2 linked regions of the Homo sapiens genome follow. The protein of the gene in region 1 interacts with the protein of each later gene in a pairwise test. Each region holds a gene or a part of one and is shown on either strand. Other genes may lie near its edges.

The links.
Region 2: the proteins of THAP12 (region 1) and SELENBP1 interact in binary tests that used the Homo sapiens proteins (3 or more experiments, as listed by UniProt).

The regions. Positions count from the first base shown.
Region 1 is NC_000011.10:76,353,318-76,357,135, forward strand, and holds part of THAP12 (52 kDa repressor of the inhibitor of the protein kinase), read right to left. Parts: intron 2,338-3,818; coding exon 2,301-2,337; intron 1-2,300. UniProt on the Homo sapiens protein: Upstream regulator of interferon-induced serine/threonine protein kinase R (PKR). May block the PKR-inhibitory function of DNAJC3, resulting in restoration of kinase activity and suppression of cell growth.
Region 2 is NC_000001.11:151,366,552-151,369,820, forward strand, and holds part of SELENBP1 (methanethiol oxidase), read right to left. Parts: coding exon of another isoform or gene 3,219-3,269; coding exon 3,162-3,218; intron 3,004-3,161; coding exon 2,891-3,003; intron 2,639-2,890; coding exon 2,453-2,638; intron 1,769-2,452; coding exon 1,648-1,768; intron 625-1,647; exon of another isoform or gene 465-624; intron 354-464; coding exon 171-353; intron 1-170. UniProt on the Homo sapiens protein: Catalyzes the oxidation of methanethiol, an organosulfur compound known to be produced in substantial amounts by gut bacteria. Selenium-binding protein which may be involved in the sensing of reactive xenobiotics in the cytoplasm.

The sequences.
Region 1 (3,818 bases):
CTCTGTTCAGGCAGGTGGTATCGGCCCCACTTGACAAACAAGGACACTAAGTAACTTGCCCAAGATCACAAATACAGTTAGAAGAATGGAAGTAAAGTTGAAATCCAAGTGCGTCTGGCTCCAAGATCCATGCTGATGCTGTTTTTATCAAACCATTATGCCACACATTTATATGGGAGATGGGACAGCTGTACAAACCAGTATAATATAAAGGAGATTAATGTAACTCTTAGGGCTAGTATTAGAATATCACACATCTTAGCCTAATCTCTTCACAGGGGATAGGAAAACTGAGGCCCTACAGGCTAAATGCCCTGCCCATAGTCATACAGGTCAGTGGTGTCTGCAGGAAAATAATCCAAATCTGAGGAGGCACAGTTAAAACCTAGTTCTTAGAACATAAGACTAGGGCCGGGGGTGCAGTGGCTTACGCCTGTAATCCCAGCACTTTGGGAGGCTGAGGTGGGTGGATCACGAGGTCAGGAGTTTGAGACCAGCCTGGCCAATATGGTGAAACCCCATCTCTACTAAAAATACAAAAATTAGCTGGGCGTGGTGGCACATGCCTGTAGTCCCAGCTACTCGGGAGGCTGAGGCAGGACAATTGCCTGAACCCAGGAGGCAGAGGTTATAGTTAGCCGAGATCGTGCCACTGCACTCCAGCCTGGGCAACAGAGTGAGACTCCGTCTCAAAAAGAAAAAAGACTATGGAGGGCGGTGGGGAGAAACAAAAATTCAGAAGTTGCATTTGATGACAAGGATAAATAAGGGGGACATGAACAAGGAGGGCATTTCAGTTGGTGAGAATTATTCTAGCACAAGCACTAAGGTAGAAGAGGGAAGCAGGCTGCCCAAGTACAAAGGGAAATCTAGTCTGACCGGAGCCTGTGTGAGCCATGCTTCAGAGCTTCATAAGGGTTCAGAAAAATGCAGGGAGCATCCTTCCTTCACCCCTCCTCAAATCAGATGACACTGCTATTCATTATATGTGACACAGCAGTGGTTCTATACTAGGGAGGCTTCCCAAGCCAGAAAGCAAGAGGTTATCCTGGACGCCTGCCTGTCTGGCTCCCTCCCTCTCTCCTCCATTATTTCTCCACTTCCAATTAACAAGTACTAATTCTCTTGCTTTTATTTTTTTCAAAAAGAAGTTCATTAAAGAGCAAAGAGTTCAAACTGAAAAGTCAAGTCCCTCTTCTTTTGGACATCTTTTTAGGTGTCATAGGTATACAAATTTCTTAAGTTCCTTGAATCTATTCCCTTTACTCTCTCTACCATTGCCTTAATTCAAGGCCTTTCAACTTTTATTTGGTCAGTTGACAGTCTAACTAGCCTCCATGCCTCCAGTGTTACCTTTTCTAATCCAACAGAGTACTCTATGTACCATGGAAATCAGGTCCCTGTTATCACCTACTTATAAACCCCTCAGTGGTTCCCTATTGCTAATAGCCCACAAGTCTGCAAGTTCTGGCCTCTGGGGTCCTCTCTAGGCTATTTTCTAACCATAATGGGTTATCACAAACTTTAACAACACTAAAATGAGTGTAGTTCCCCAAAACAGCACCCTGTTTCGTGCACAGAATACCTTTCCCTCTCTTTGCCCAAGTCCATATCTCCTCATCCATAAAGAGGGAAATAACAGTACTTATCTCACGGCTATTGTGAGAATTAAATTAATTAATACAAGTAAAGCACTTAGAACAATGATTTGGCATCAGTAAGCACTCAATAAAATGCTACGTTAATAATAACAGCAATAGGAGGAAGAAACAGAGGAGGAGGAGTAACTAATAACTGACAAGAAGAAAAACAGCTTCTAGCCCTCGTCCTTTGGTGACATAATTCGGACATCAGCACCTCCAGAAAGGCTGTTGTGACCACTACTCACAATGGCACTATGTGCCCCCACAGCATTTAGTCCTTAAACATTTACAAAGAATTTATTACATACCACAACTGGGTGGACAGAAAAAGAGATTCAGTGCATGCCTCTACTGTTGCCCTTCCTTCCCTACAATGGAGCACTGTGTGCCTGCCACCCCTACCACACTGAGAGAGGAGGCGTCACCTCCATGAGGCCTGCATATAGCATAGTGTGTGGCATTGCAGCACTCAATAAAGACAAACTAAAATTAGACTTTAGTCTCATAGATAATTCCAAAACACAGGACAAAATTGAGCACACTCCTACATTCATTCTCAAGGTAGGTTTTCAACACAGAACATATTTATTTGTCCTTACCAGGTCAAGGCCTTTTTAAAAGGCATTCAGAAGTTGAGTCATTAACACTATCACTTACTTTTTTTCTGTTTCAGTGTCCTGATTTCATCTTCACTCTAAATGTCAAGAAAAAAAAAGAAAAAAACAAATCATCTTTAAAAAACTGACCTCTAGTGTATCATCTTAGACTCACAAATACAAATGCCTATTCTGAGTCAATTTAATTCTTTCAAGAGCATAAATTCTTTATATAGTACACATTCTTCAAACAAACAGACAATGAGAAAACCAGAATAAGCTGTTAATGACTCCAAGGTTATAACAAAGTCTTAGGGAAAAAAGAATACATCATTTTGCTTATTTTCTACCTAAATCATCGTAACTTTGGGTTATAAGTGTTTACTGGCTAATGAAAGGCACAAAAATACACCATGGCACTTGGAGTTAAATTCAAGAGGACACAAATCATCTTACTTCCCAATTTAACCCTGGAGATGTCCCATAAGAAGGAGGTTGCTGAATCTCAGGACTCAACACAAAAGTGATGAGAAATCCCTGAGAAGCAGAAGGTGAAAGTACCAGCATGGAAGAGATACACAGAGCATACACAGAGCATAGTAGGCCAAGTGGCACCAATAGGGTTAGACAAAGGAAGAACTTTCCAGCTGCATCCTTTACTTTCCTTCCAACCCTCTACAATGCTTAAATCATGAGCCACCTGTTACTTTCTGTGGCAGAAAAGCAGCAATGCCAGTGACAGCTGAAGACAGCAGGATGCCTGTTGGGCAGCACTGGACATGGTGCTGATAACAAGAAACATCAGCAGGCTGGTCAACCTGGACATCCCCTCCTTATCCTACGGACTGCACGTTTATAAGGATGGTGGGTCAGGAAGAGTATGCCTGCTGTGAGATATGTGAGGCTCTCTGAGGGACAGACTACAGGGAAATGATAGCTACAGGACAGCAAGTGATTGAGCTCCTCATCCTGATACATATTACACTTCATATCTATGGATTTAACCAACCATGCATTGAAAATGCTGGGGAAAAAATGGATGGTTGTATCTATCTTGAACATGTACAGACTTTTTTTCTCATTCTTCCCCTACATAACGTAGCATAACTATTTACATAGCATTTACATTGTAGTAGGTGTTACAAACACATAAATGTATTAAGTATCATAAATAATCTAGGTATTATTTGAAAATGGATGGTTGTGCCGGGCATGGTGGCTCACGTCTGTAATCCCAGCACTTTGGGAAGCTGAGGCGGGAGGATCACCTGAGGTCGGGAGTTCAAGACCAGCCTGACCAACATGGAGAACCCTCGTCTCTACTAAAAATACAAAAAGAGCCGGGCGTGGTGGCACATGCCTGTGATCCCAGCTACTCGGGGGGCTGAGGCAGGAGAATTGCTTGAACCCGGGAGGCGGAGGTTGCGGTGAGCTGAGATCGCACCCTTGCACTCCAGCCTGGGCAACAAGAGCGAGACTCTGTCTCAAAAAAAAAAAAAAGAAAAGGATGGTTGTGTCTATACTGAACACACAGATTTTTGTTCTTGTCATTATTCTCTAAACAATGTAACAGAACAAC
Region 2 (3,269 bases), on another chromosome or scaffold:
GATTGGAGGGATCAGGAAGACGCTTGAGCAATCTGAGCATGCGGTACATCCTATGCCATCTCTCTTAGATTCTGGGGCCACAGGAGGGAAGTGTGGGGGTGGGAGATTTGGAGCAGAAAGCAAGGGGATGTAGGCCCAAGGCTCCTGCTGGCACATGGGGGGATTCTCACCAGCCTCCACATCAGCGGGGTTGAAGCCATCTCGTAAGACATTGGGAGCTGCCCACTCAGTGCTGATCATGACATTGTGTCGAGGCTGGTACCAGAAGTCATAGCCCAACGGTGCAGCACCCCCAGGTCTCTCCCATGTCCCCTTCACCTCGAACGTCTCCCCATCCAGCAGCACAAAACCCCCTGAACAGGGAAGGAAGCAGGGTGGCAGGTAGAAGCAGTAGAGACACTAACCCCACCCTCCAGCCCTCTCCCCGAGGCATGTCTAAGAGGCTGTAAGCCCATTGCCTCTACCTCCACTGCTGGATTTGCCAGTTCCTTAAATTCAGGCATCCAGGGCTGGGGGAAGAGTGGCTCATGCCAGTAATCCCAGCCCTTTGAGAGGCTGAGGCGGGCGGATCACTTGAGGTCAGGAGTTCAGGATCAGCCTGGCCAACATGGTGAAACTCTGTCTCTATTAAAAATATAAAAAATTACCCAGGCATGGCGTCACATGCCTGTAATCCCAGCTACTCGGGAGGCTGAGGCAGGATAATCTCTTGAACCAGTGAGGCGGAGGTTGGAGTGAGCTGAGATTGCGCCACTGCACTCTAGCCTGGGCAACAGAACGAGACTCCCATCTCAAAAAAAAAAAAAAAAGAGAAAAGAAAAAGAAAAAAGAAAAGAAAAAGTAAATAAAAAATTCAGGCATCCAAAGGGTCTCATCCAGGTATTCAAATTTGGCCAGGTGGCAGGGGGGCCTTTACGCCAGTGCCCCTGTCTCCTGTCTACTTCATCTCTCTCTCAGACCACAGCAGAAACGTTTCTCCCACGAGATCTTCTGGGACTCAGCACCTGGTATTTCTCTTGTCCAGCCTCCCACTTTTGGAGTGGGATTCCTCCCAGAGTCTAAGCTCCATTCTGCTCACTACATTTTTTTGAGAGAGGGTCTCACTCTGACGCCCAAGCTGAAGTGCTGTGGTTCAATCACAGCTCATTGCAGCCTTGACCTCCCTGGGCTCGGGTGATCCTCCTACCTCAGCCTCTTGAGAAGTGGGGGTTATAGGCCTGTACCACCACACCCAGCTAATTTGTGTATTTTTAGTGCAGAGTTGCCAGTGCCAACTCTGTATTATCAGCAGACAACACAGAGATGGGGTTTCACCATGTTGGCCAGGCTGGTTTGGAACTCCTGAGCTCAAGCGATCCGCTGGCCTCGGCCTCTTGAAGTGCTGGGATTAGAGGAGTGAGGCACAACACCTGGCCTGTTTTGACTATAACTTTGAACTGAATTCATCAGTGAAGACTCATCTTAATAGAAATATTCAAAACTGAAGTTACTTGCTAACATTTAAAATACTGGCTGGGATCCAGCTCACTGGTTCTCCTTGGGAAGTCATTCCAACCCTCCCCTTCCATTCTGCTCCTCCCACAGAAAAATGCTTCCCACATTTCACAGCTGTGGAAGTTTTCATGAGCACACAGTGCTGGCAGGTACCTTTGCCATTGCCCTTGACGTCTCCCAGGGAGCTGATCATCACTTCCCCGCTGGCCAGGCAGTGGCTGGTGTGGAGAAAGGCCAGTTCGCACTTGGCATGGATGTCCTTGGGCTCAATGACCTGGAAGGGGTGGGGAATGGTGTCAGAATCATACAGGACTGGGAGTCCCTGCTCTTAACCTCCATACTTCCCCTACTTCTATCTGCTGACTCTGTCATCTTTTCCTTCAAAACATGGACACAACTCTCCCTGTGGGAATATGACAAAGATTCAGTCTGGTAACTTCTACAGAGCAGCAAGGGAAAGTCAGAGAGATTGCTAATAACTCCCCAGGCAGAAAGCGCTGACCTTTCCCCATGTGTCCTGAAGGCACACGCAGCCCTGTGAAACCATAAGCTCCTCCCAGGCTGGCCTACACCAGTGTCAACTCTGTATTACCAGTAGACAACACAGTAAATGCCTGGCACCAAAAGTGCACTAAACAAAGTGTTGGGAGAGACCGGAATTTTTAAGAGAACCCTGAGCTCCTAACTGCATGGGGGAATAAATGGCTCCCTCCCTCTCTCAGAGTAAAACAAGAAGCCTTGTCCCTCTTCTCCCATGCCCTGGTCACCGTGCTGGAGGGTGATGACCCAGAATGCCTGGGTAGACTCTGCTCTGAGGTCCAACCTCCCTCCCTGCTGCCGAGCCAGTTGCCGCGTAAGAGCTGGAGGCTGCTGGTTTAGGTCTGGCTTCCTGCCCGTAGACTACCTGGGGTGGCAGGTGTCTTATGGTCTACTGAGCTGGCAAGGGCAGAGGACATGCCTTGTGCAGCTTTGGGGCCCGGGGCTCAGAGCCCACGTCCACCACATAGATGCGAGAGGAGATGAGACTGGGCAGCACCAGCTTGGTGCGCGACTTGGTGCTATCACCGAAGCAGCTGCTGCAGGTGTTCCATCCTGAGTGATGCAGCTCGTCCTTCAGGTTGGGCATGGGCAGCCGGTGGATGACCTAGGATGCGGGGAGAGGTGGTGCTCCCCCAGGCCACGCCTCTGTCCACTTTTGGAAGAGGCGCCCTGTGGACTCATTTTGGTTTGGAAGCACGGCACAGGCTGGATTTCAGCACTCCCCTTGTCCCAGGTTGAGCGTGCACAAGCATCCCCAGGGAGGGCCAAGAAGGATGGAGCTGGGAAGGGGGGGCCCAGGGCCAGGGATGAGGGCAGCTATGGTCTCAAAGTAGCTGGCGCCCAAGCCCCGCCTAACCTGGCAATACTGGGGAGACTTGGGGTCAACATCCACAGTGGCCAGATAATCTGGGGCCTCAGTGCCTGTGTTTCGGTAAATGCAGGGCAGGTAGACGATCTCTTCCCTGGGTCCTGCACGGTAGAAAGCAGGCAGCAGGGACGGCAGGGTGGGAAGGAAAGGTAGGGGAAGTGCTGGGTGTGCCAGAGGGTGGGGGCTAGGTCTGAAGTCCCTCCACCCCCAGCTGTGGAATCAGTAGTAGGGCGCTGGCTCTCAGACCATGGGCAATTACCTTTCATGGCCTCCAGAGGGGTGGAGTAGCCGGGTCCACAATTCCCACATTTCGTAGCTGTGGAAGCAATGGGGCGCATTGGCTGGGCCACGCTCTGGAGGGTGAAGG